Regions from separate parts of the Homo sapiens genome. Here region 2 is linked to region 1. Evidence: fine-mapped expression QTL. A gene starts in region 1. The other region holds a variant in brackets. All regions are shown on one strand. Distances are from middle to middle. Region 1 holds the start of MMP2-AS1 (MMP2 antisense RNA 1). Region 2 overlaps MMP2-AS1 (MMP2 antisense RNA 1).

Region 1 (5,000 bases):
GTGATCCTTGCCACAGCCCCTGAGAATGCATTATTATTATGGTCATCTCTTTATGCATGAGGATACCAAGGCACAGAGAAGTTAAGAAACTCACTCAAGGTTACACAGAGAGTGAGTGTTGACCCAGGCAATCTGCTCTGGTGCCCACACTCTTAGGCTGGTGCCATCCAGTGCCCCCGGAGCAAGCAAGATTTGGCTTCTGCACCCTCAATGACATCAGTATTTTCTCTGGGCATCCTCGGCCAAAGCACCGTCCCTCTGGGGCTCTCTGTCTCTATATGTTTATTTGCCTGGTAAATGCTTATTAAGCCCTGTGCTGAGTGCTGGATATATAGCAGCAATTAACCGCAGTCATTGCTCTTGTGGCGTTTGCATTCCAGTGGGGAGACAGGCAATACAGAGCAAACAGACTCATACACAAGGTAATTTTAGATGGCTAGGAGACCTGGGAGGGATGAGGTCAAGATTATCTGATGAGGGCAACTTGAGAATGGGTCGTCAGGGAGGGCCTCTTGGAGGCCCTTGTTAGGTGTGAGTCCTGAAGGAGGAAAATGAAGCAGTCACATGCAGAACAAGGGGAAGAGTGTTCCAGGTAGAGCAGATGGCAAGTGCAAAGGCCCTGGGGTGGGAACAAGCTTTTTTGTATTTGAAGAACAGAAGAAGGCCACTGTGGCTGGAGCAGAGCGACAGGCACAATGAGCTTTTGTGGGTTTGGTTGGCGAGCATGTGTCCCCATCTCCTTGGGAGTTGTCCCTCCTCCCCACTGAGGACAGTGTTTCTGGGAAGGTGGATTGGGTTACTGTCCTGCCCTCTTCAGAAGCCAAGACAGTTCTAAGCCTTCCTCCTACTACCCTGCCAGGGTGGGGCTGTAATCTAGGCTGAGCCAATGGGACACTCATATGGTTTTTTTTTTTTTTTTTTTTTTTTGAGACAGAGTTTCACTCTTGTCACCCAGGCTGGAGTGCAATGGCATGACCTCGACTCACTGCAACCTCTGCCTCCTGGGTTGAAGCAATTAGCTTGCCTCAGCCTCCTGAGTAGCTGGGATTACAGATGCCCACCACCAGGCTTGGCAAATTTTTATATTTTTGGTAGAGACAGGGTTTCACCATGTTGGCCAGGCTGGTCTCGAACTCCTGACCTCAGGTGATCCACCTGAAAGTGCTGGGATGACAGACGTGAGCCACCGTGCCCGGCCCACTCATATGACCTCGCGTGACATAGATACAGATGGAACAATGGCAGCCCAGGCACAGCAACTGCGGGACCCTGAGGCCTGGTGTTCCCACCTTGATGTCTGCTCCAGTTGCCTGGCTCCCTTATCCTATTCTAACAAATCCCCCTTCGCTTATGTTGCCAGAGTTTACTTCTGTGGCCTACACCCAAATGACCCTACTGATGCAGTGGAGGAATGAAGGCAGATGAAGTTGGGCCCAGATGCGCTAGGCCTGGTTGGCCAAGCCAAGGAATTGGGTTGTGTTCCAAGGAAAATGAGGTCCCTGGGGATTTTTCTGGCACTGCCCTTCTGAGATGCTGTGATTCTGTGTGGGTGGCTTCCCACCTATGGGCATGACCTTAATCCACCAGCCCCTGTCCAGAAGCTCTCCCCTGCCCACCCAGGCCCAGGTCCCCACCACACTCTACCGCTAATGCACAATTGCCCTCCGCAGGCACCCAGGCAAGGTGAGCTTGGGATTACTTGTGTATTTCCCATGCACCCCCAATAAGGTCTCTCTATGGCTCAGATAAACATCTCTAAGATTTTATCCCTACCATACACTCCACCAAATGAAGAGTAAAACGAGAAGGGAGGAGAAATAGACAATCAGAACGTTCATCTTATATGTTGTGGAGCCCAGGAAGGGGACTGAGGAGGGGTCAGGGAGCCAAGGTTCAGCCAGTGCCCCAAGTGCCTCCTGCCCTTGAATTCCGAAGCATCAGGAATCAGTCACGGTAACAACAGCCAGCTGGTGACCCCAATCCCTCTGCACAGCAACAAGCCTTGGCTCTTGTTTTTCTAAGAATCCAGTCAATCCTCTTTCCTGTAAGTTGCAACCCAGTCCTCCCCCCAGGCCGGGCTGAGGACACAGCTTGTCTTCCCGATGGTGTCACCTAGAACTCTGGTTCCCCTGCTCCCTTTCTCTTCAAATAGGAAAATTGGCACAGCTTGACTTTCTTCCACTGCCCTCCCAGCCACAGCTTAGACACCTACAAACTCCCACCGCAGGCTGGAGTGCCCTGGAGCCCTAACTGTGATACCCAGGTCAGTTTCCAAATCTGTACCTTTCTGCGTCTCCTGTTCCAACTCTCAGTGAACTCAGCTGGTTCCTGCCCTTCCTCCCCAATGACCAGCCCTGAGGAATTGACAGCTAGGCCACAGCCGCCTCTTCCTCCAGCTTGACCCTAATTGGAATAAGTACCTCTATCATGGAATCCCAGAGGGACTTACGGTGGGGTTGTAGGCAGTGAGCCATGATTGCACTACTGCTCTCCAGCCTGGGCAACAGAGTGAGACCTTCCAAGAGAGAAAGAGAGAAAGAGGGAAAGAGAGAGAGAGAGAACAGAAACAGGAAAAGAAAGAAAGAAAGAAAGAAAGAAAGAAAGAAAGAAAGAAAGAAAGAAAGAAACCATTTAACATTTAAAGTTTACATTTAACAAGGGCTTACAATATGCCAGGTGTTTTACAAGTATTCATTAATTGATTCAAAAGACATTTATTGAGGGGTGTAAAATGATTATCTCTATTTTATAGATGAAGAAACTGAGGCACACAGAGGTGAAATAGCTTGCACAAATGTTGCTTAGCTGGTAAGTAGATTAGTCATGGCAAAGCTAAGCTAGGCAGCCTGCCTTCTTTTTTTTTTTTTTTTTTTCCGTGATGGAGTCTTGCTTTGTCATCCAGTCTGGAGTGCAGTGGCGTGATCTCGGCTCACTGCAACCTCCACCTCCCAGGTTCAAGCGATTCTCCTGCCTCAGTCTCCCAAGTAACTGGGATTACAGGCATGCGCATTTTTTTTTTTTTTGTATTTTTAGCAGAGACAGGGTTTTGCCATGTTGGCCAGGCTGGTCTCAAACTCCTGACCTTGTGATCCACCCACCTCAGCCTCCCAAAGTGCTGGGATTACAGGTGTGAGCCACCATGCCCAGCCCTTATAGTCTTAATAACTGAAAGACAACAGCTTCTAGAAGGATTTTGTAGCTCTCAGCATTGCCTGCCATGTCTGCACTGGGCAAGGCCTTTCCCGGGCAATTTCCTTTCCCATGACAGAAAATGGGTGGTGACCACTCTATCCTGATGTTGTGTGGTCAGCTATCTGGCTGTGGGTGCAAAAAGGATGCACTGAGACCAGGTTTTGAAGGCATTTACAGACACATGGAGCTCTTGGAAGGCTCCTCAGCTTGTCCTCTGGAGTGGTTCTCAGAGGTGGATGATGCCGCAGAAGCAGAAATGCTGCAGGTTCTCGCTTGGAACCTTCCATCCAGTCCAGGCCTGGAGGAGCAGCCATCCAGGCAGGAATTGCAGGAAAGGCTACAATCCGTAGAGAGATCTGAAAATGAGTCTATCTTAGTGAGGCAGCAGTTGGGAGCAAGAAACAGAAGCCCCCTTAGACTAACTAAGGAGAAGGGAGTCGGAGTATGATTACAAGAACCCTAGGAGGCCAGCGGCGGGGCTTGAAAATCACGGGCTCAGGCTGCACTCAGCTCTTTCTCCCTGCGGTCTCTGTTCCCCAAGCTCCCCTCTCTGCAGCCACCCTGGGCAGCTCACTCTCCCTATCCCCTGACCCCTCACAGTGGCTCCGTGTGATCTCTCGGTCCACTCAGCTGTCCTTCCAGGTCCCTGTGGAGAATCCCTGAGATAGGAACATAGAAGGTGTGGGGGCCAGAGGGGGTGCAGAAGGTGAGGCACCATTTCATCCGTAACAGCCATGACCAGAAATGCTAGTAAATGCTTTTTGAGGCTTGTTTCATCGTGAGATTTTGCTTCAGAGGCCATTTGGGCGTTTTTCAGCCCTGGCCTCTTTGGCTGCCGGAAATAAGATCCCACTCTAGCAAAGGGAGGTCCTTTTTTCTTCTTTTACAATTCCACATCTTTCCAAGGGTGATATTCAGTAAGCCCACCTCAGATGGCATCTGAGAGTGTTAGATTTTGCTCATCTGATGCTGAGGATGGTGTCTGAAACACAGTCAGTGCTGAGTAGTTGTTGTGAGCAGGAGCGGTTGGCTTCCTGCATATCCCAATGAAATCAGCCCGGGGGCTGCAGGGTGCTTTTCGGAGGGGCCATTCCCCAGGAGAGTGAGGATTGTGGGGATCCCAGTCAGTCCTGTCTCTCTGAATTCAGCCAGCTGCTTTCCTGAGCTCCCAAACAAGGCCGTTTTTTCAGCATCTATTACATTGGTGCAAAAGTAAATGTGGTTTTACTCAATGGTAAAACCACAATTACCTTTGCACCAACCTAATAGGGTTCCAAGACCTTGGGTGTCACAGGCCCAGGCAAATGAAGCTGAGGGCCAGGGGTGAGAGGAGATGGCTGGATTGGAGACTGGTGCATGAACTGGGCATAAGCACTGCAGGAGGGAAGCTGGGTGGGGCCTGGGAGAGCTGCTTTCGGGGATTCTGAGGCTGCAAAGGAGTCTGTGGTTGGAAATAACCCCCAAGAAAAGGACAGACTGGTGTCAGGGTGTGAAATGTCCTTAGACCTCTCCTCTGCCCCACCCCAGTGACCTAGAACTCAGCTAGTTTTGATGCTTGTTGAACCAGAAATGCTGTTGACTGAGTCTCTGAACCCTCTATTTTTTTGTAGGGGGAGGGAGGGAGTCACATAGAGCTGCTTTTTTTTTTTTTTTTTTTTTTTGAGACTGAGTCTCGCTGTATTGCCAGGCTGGAGTGCAGTGGTGTAATCTCGGCTCACTGCAACCTCTGCTTCCCGGGTTCAAGTGATTCTCCTGCCTCAGACTCTTGAGTATCTGGGATTGCAGGTGTGTGCCACCACACCCAGCTA
Region 2 (5,520 bases), 35 kb after region 1:
TAGTCCCAGCTCCTTATTTTGTAAGACTTAGGTCCAAAGAGGCCCAAGTTCATATTCATTTATTCATTCATGCATTTGTTTGACATATATCAAACACCTCCTATATGCCTGGCACTGTGAACTAGACAGGCTAAGTCCCAGCTATTTTGGAGCTACCAACCCAGGGTCAGAGGAGGGGCTATACCTTTGGTCCCAGACCCCTAGTGCAGTGCTCCTTCTCTGCCCCTTCTCAGAAGGTGTTTTTGTAATCCCCATCTACACCCTACCCTCATGGGTGACTTGGGCACTTAGTGTTGCATTAACATCGTTTCCTTTTAATAAAGCAGCTACATTTTCACCCCATCCCGGGCTCCATGTTCCTGCTGCACACACATCAAGAATGCTGCTAATTTCAGCGTCTGCCTTCCAGACCCAGACGTCAAAACAACTACCTTTCATCTCAGGTTTGTAACACAGAAAACCTTCAATATTGGGAACAGATAACCTCGAAGGTGGGTTCATATCTCTCAGCACGATTGCTGTAACTTAACTCTGCTGCACCCGATCAAGGCTTTCTCTCTGCCTCATAGGTATTTTAATACAAATGTTCCTTTCATTTGGCTGATTGAAGGTCTCCAACCTGCAATAAATGAAACATCTGATCCCCTTGAATCCAAATAACTTTTTCTTTGATTTTCTTTTACTTCTATTTCTTCGTCCTTTGTTCTACAGCCCGAGTCAAATTTCCCTTTAGAAATTGAAAGAATGTGTGTGGGTTTTTCCTGCTTTTTTTTTTTTTTTAACCAAGCTCTAGTGCAACCGCTGGTTCATGGACTAGAATATTAAGATCCAATTCAATGGCAGACTGTCTCCAGCAATGTTGTATTTTTATTTTTTTTTGCCGTCATCCCCCCCACCCACTTGTGAGCAATGGTTGTACAAATTAGCCTCTGTGTACTAGTCACCGAAGCTGGCTTCCCAATTAACCCCAGGCTTGAGAGAAAATAAGACTAAAGATTCTTCCCCTCCTGAAAGAACTAAGTTATCCATGCACAAAAGCCTACATGTTGGCACCTGGCTATGGAGTTGGGCATTTAATTGCCTTTGTAATGACTCAGTCCATCTGCATGGTATTGGGTCCCCAGTTTCAGGTAATGGGCCAGAGGGGTCTTATTAGTCTCTGGAATGACCAGGCCATGTGTATTCATCACTTCGAAAGGCAAGCAGGGTCTGTGAGAAGCTGGTGAAGCTCTTTGTGTGTTCACATCTCTGATTGTGCCCTGTGTCCACACTTAGCCAGGACACCTACCCACTTAGTGGTCTTGGCTTTGTTTCTAGGGTGAGGGCTTGAGCTGTGGGTAACAGTGCTGATTATTACATGCTAGTAAGATTGTCTCCCTCTTTGAAGTGGTAGAAAGGTTTGTCCCTTCAGGGTGATTGGGTGAATATCAGAAAGCAACCACAGGAACATTTTGTTGTACTTTGCTAAGGTCTAAATATTTGTCTCCTCCCACCAAAAATTAGTGGTTGAAACCTCATCCCCAGTGTGATGAAATGAGGAGGTGAGGCCTTTGGGAGGTGACGAGGTCTTGAAGGCAGAGCCTTTATGGATGGGATTAGTACCCATATAAAAGAGACCTCAGGGAGCTTGTTCACCCCTTCTGTCATGTTGAGTACTCAGCAAGAAGATGCCATCTATGAGGAATGGACCCCCACCAGACACCCAATCTGCCAGTAACTTGATCTTGGACTTCCCAGCCTCCAGAACTGTGAGGAATCAGTTTCTGCTATTTATGAGTTACCCAGTCTATGGCATTTTGCTATGGCAGCCCAAATAGACTGAGACATACTCCTTAACCTTTGACCCACTTCTGTTTAGGCCCAGCCAGCCTTCCTGAGCCTGTGCATAGTCTTCCTGGCTCAAGGAACTCTCTCTACCGAGGTGTGATCTCCTAACTCCTGGCACTCATTTACCTATCCATGGTTGGTAGTCAGCCTCCAAGATGCCTGCAGTCATCCCTGCCTCCTGGGATTCATATCCTCCTCCACATTGTGCCAGGATTGGGCTCTGTGGCCAAAAAGAAAACAGCAGATGAGAGGACGTGTCTCTTCTCAGAAGGGTTAGAAAAGACTGTGGCTTCCATTTTAGATGACTTTCTCTCTCTCTCTCTCTCTCTCTCTCTCTCTCTCTCTCTCTCTCCTCTTTTCCTTCTTCTCTTCCTTGGATCTCTTGCTCTGAGGAAAGCAAACTACTATGTTGTGAGCAGCCCAATGGAGAGGCCCACAAGACAACGAACTGAAGCCTCCAGCAACAACCCTGTGAGGTCAGTTTGGAAGTGGATTTTCTAGCCCCAATTGAGCTTAAGATGACTTCAGCTTCAGCAGACAGCTTGACTGCAGCCTTTCTAGAGAGCAAGCACCACCCAGCTCTGCTGCTTCTAGACCCCTGACCTCAGAAATTGCACGAGATAACATGTTTGCTGTTTCAGGCTGCCAAATTTAGGGGTAAGCTGTTATGTAGCAATAAATACCAGCACACCATGTGAGCTCGTCTCTCGAGGGACTCTCTGAGGCTCCTGATGTTCCTGGTTGGCTCCCTCAATCTATGTGCTTGTTGTCCCTTAATATGTATTTTCAGTTCTTCCTTCATAAGAAACACCCTTAGCTTTTAAGTGGATCCTTGGCTGCCTGGAATAAACACTACATTGCCCCAGGTTTTTTGGCAGTTAAATGTGATCATGTGACTTAACCGTATTCTAGTCAATGGGCATATGTGGAAGTGGTGTGTGCAACTTCTGGAGAGCACCCTTACTAGGCGGATGCACCTTTCTTTCCACTTTCCTCCTTCCTGCAGGCTGGAACTGCCCATAAAGGCTGGCACCCCAGCAGCCACCTTGAGAAATGCAGTGATGATGCTGAGTGGCAAGGCAGAAGGCACAGGGTCCCTGCACCTGAGGATTGCTGCTCCAAACCTGGGCCACCAGCCTGAAGATCCCGCCAGGGAGAA[A/G]TAAAGCTCTGTTTTGCTGAAGCCACTGCTATTTTGGGGGTCTCATCTCTTCCAGCTGATTCTAACCTGAAATTGAACCTTAATTCAATCTGGCTGATCCATGAACAACCATCACGCCTTGTGCTCTGTGTCAGATAGGTTTCTTAAGGGAGAATGTCACTTACTGACAGTGATTTGTCAACACCAAAGAGGAAAAAATATCAGAGAAAGGTAAGAGGGAGAACAATAGAGAGAGAAAGAGAGACAGAGACAGAGGGGGAGAGAGAGAGAGAGAGAGAGAGAGAGAGAGAGAGAGAGAGCAGACTTGGTTTAATTTCCTCTTTTCCCTTATTACTTTCTGACATTTTCTGACCTTAATACCTTTGAAACTTAGCACTTCCCTCAGAAGCCTCCACTGTAAACAAAGCCCCAAGATTTCCCTATAATTTTCCCCTCCCCATTGGCCCATCAGTCCCCATGGGCTTCTGCTTACCAGGATGCCCAACTATTCCCCTGCAAACATCCCCCTGCCCAGTGGGCCCTAACACTCACTAGTAGCATTGCCTTTCCCCCTCTGTTCTGCCCTCCTCCAGAGGCTCCCCATTCTCTGGATCTAATGTTGTCCCAGAAGTTTACCCCTCCCTGTCCCACCCAGGCGACCTCAAATTCTCCTAGTGGCTTCCAATGACCCAGTTGTGCCCAGAAGCTTCTCCCTAACAGCTTAGGCTGTCACAGCCTTCCAGAGGCCTCACCCATCTTAGTAGGGTCTATTGCTCCTGTTCCTTAAGCCCTAGCAGTCCCTCCACCCAGTAGGCCCTGAAACTGTAATGCAGTCCTCTCAGGCTGAGGACCTGCTCTGTGCAAAGGCCTGAGAGGGAGGTGGAGAGAAGCCAGGCAGAGGCCAGATATATTAGCAGTTTTCCTAGAACAGTTGCTAAAATAGAGCAGACAGGGGCTATGGGAGTTGATCAATAGATATTCATTGAACATCTACTTTGTGCTGCGAATGATTTCAGTCATGAGGGACATAGCAGACCATAAAACAGAACAGGGGAAGCCTTCTTTAGAAGTGGTCCTGGTATATTTCTGTCAATTGACATATATTCACAAATTCACGCATCCACTTAATACGTATTTATTGAGCTCCTTCTGTATACGAGGCACTGTTCTTGTTGCTGAAAATACAAAACTGAACAAAACAGAAAAGCTCCTGCCCTTGGGAGCTTATGTTCTAGTAAGGAAATGAAATAAACAACAAACAGCGAGTGCCTTCAGTCTTATGTTCCCAGAAGAAGATGCTGAGACAAGGGTTGAAGTGCAGGTAATTTATTAAGAAAGAGCTCCCAGGAGATATCCATAAGGGCATAGGGAAACAGGGCAAGAGAGGGGGAAGAAGCCCAGCAAAGGTGCAGCTTCCCAAAGTCCCAACCTCTGCCTGATCCTGTGGAGAGCTCTGGGGTATAAATTACATCTCAGGGTCTGTCTGTCTTTGAAGCAGGGGTGTCAGGCTTTTATACTCCCACATCCATTGGCTACAGGCTGGAGGGGTGAGGGGGAGTAAATTTTGGGTACTTTTTCTCCTCTCTGCATGCCATGGGGACAAAGCAGCTGCAGAGGTTCATGGGCCAGCACAGGAAGGAAGTTCCAGGTGTGAACCTTTTAGAAGTAAAATACGTAGGGCCAGGTGTGGTGGCTCACGGCTGTAACCCAGCATTTTGGGAGGCCGAGGGTGGTGGATCACCTGAGGTCAGGAATTCAAGACCAGCCTGGCCAACATAGTGAAACTCCATCTCTACTAAAAATATAAAAATTAACCAGGTGTTGTGGTGCATGCCTATAATCCCAGCTACTTGGGAGGCTGAGGCAGGAGAATAACTTGAACCCGGAAGGCAGAGGTTGTAGCGAACTGAGATCATTCCACTGCACTCCAGCCTGGGCAACAAGAGAGAAACTCTGTCCCAAAAAAGGAGAAGGAGAAGGAGAAAGAGAAGGAGGAGTAGGGGAAAATGTGTGTAGAGGCTGGGGGTGAGCACACAGAATAAGTAAAAGGGACCTGAGGGATGCATCCATGCAATAGATTATCATAATATGATGACAGGTGTGAGAAGCATTGAGGATTTCACCACTCCTGACCCCTCCTCCATGCACAGGGGCATCCGGAGGATCTCCATGTCTCTATTCCCCTTACCTTGCTCTGCCCCAAGGGAGGTGACTTGGCTGATTGATAAGGATTCTAGGAGGAATAAACTGAATGTGAGCAGCTCTGTCCTGTCCTCATTCCTTGTCTTATTTTGGTCTCCTTAAAGACCTAGGGTACAGAAGGAAGGGCAGTGACTGGGGGATTCCTTAGGAAACCAGCATTCTGAAAAATAATGACGTGGGCAAGAGAGTGGGAGTGGCTGGTGGTCTTCCCCTTGGGGGAACTGAGAAAGCTGCAGTGAGAAAGGGGCCATGGGGATGTCAGGGAGGCTCAGGCCAGGTAGGGGAGCAGCCCCTGCACAGGCCTCAGGGTGGGGGTGTGCTTGGCACTTTTGAAGATTAGCCAGCGCAGGTGG

The links. PIP is the estimated chance that this variant, and not a neighbour inherited with it, causes the effect.
Region 2: its variant is fine-mapped to the expression of MMP2-AS1 in whole blood (TOPMed, PIP above 0.99). The same link has a PIP of 0.9 or more in esophagus mucosa, ileum, lung, macrophages, monocytes and monocytes after LPS.

What each region holds. Positions count from the first base shown.
Region 1 is chr16:55,459,438-55,464,437 of GRCh38, reverse strand. MMP2-AS1 (MMP2 antisense RNA 1) reads left to right here and starts at 2,141. Exons shown (of 7, transcript NR_147198.1): 1 at 2,141-2,263.
Region 2 is chr16:55,424,284-55,429,803 of GRCh38, reverse strand. MMP2-AS1 (MMP2 antisense RNA 1) reads left to right here. Exons shown (of 7, transcript NR_147198.1): 5 at 324-443; 6 at 2,220-2,303; 7 at 2,834-3,007. Among named protein-coding and RNA genes, the nearest start is that of MMP2-AS1, 35 kb to the left of the region's middle. The variant A/G (reference allele first, on the strand shown) is at 2,987.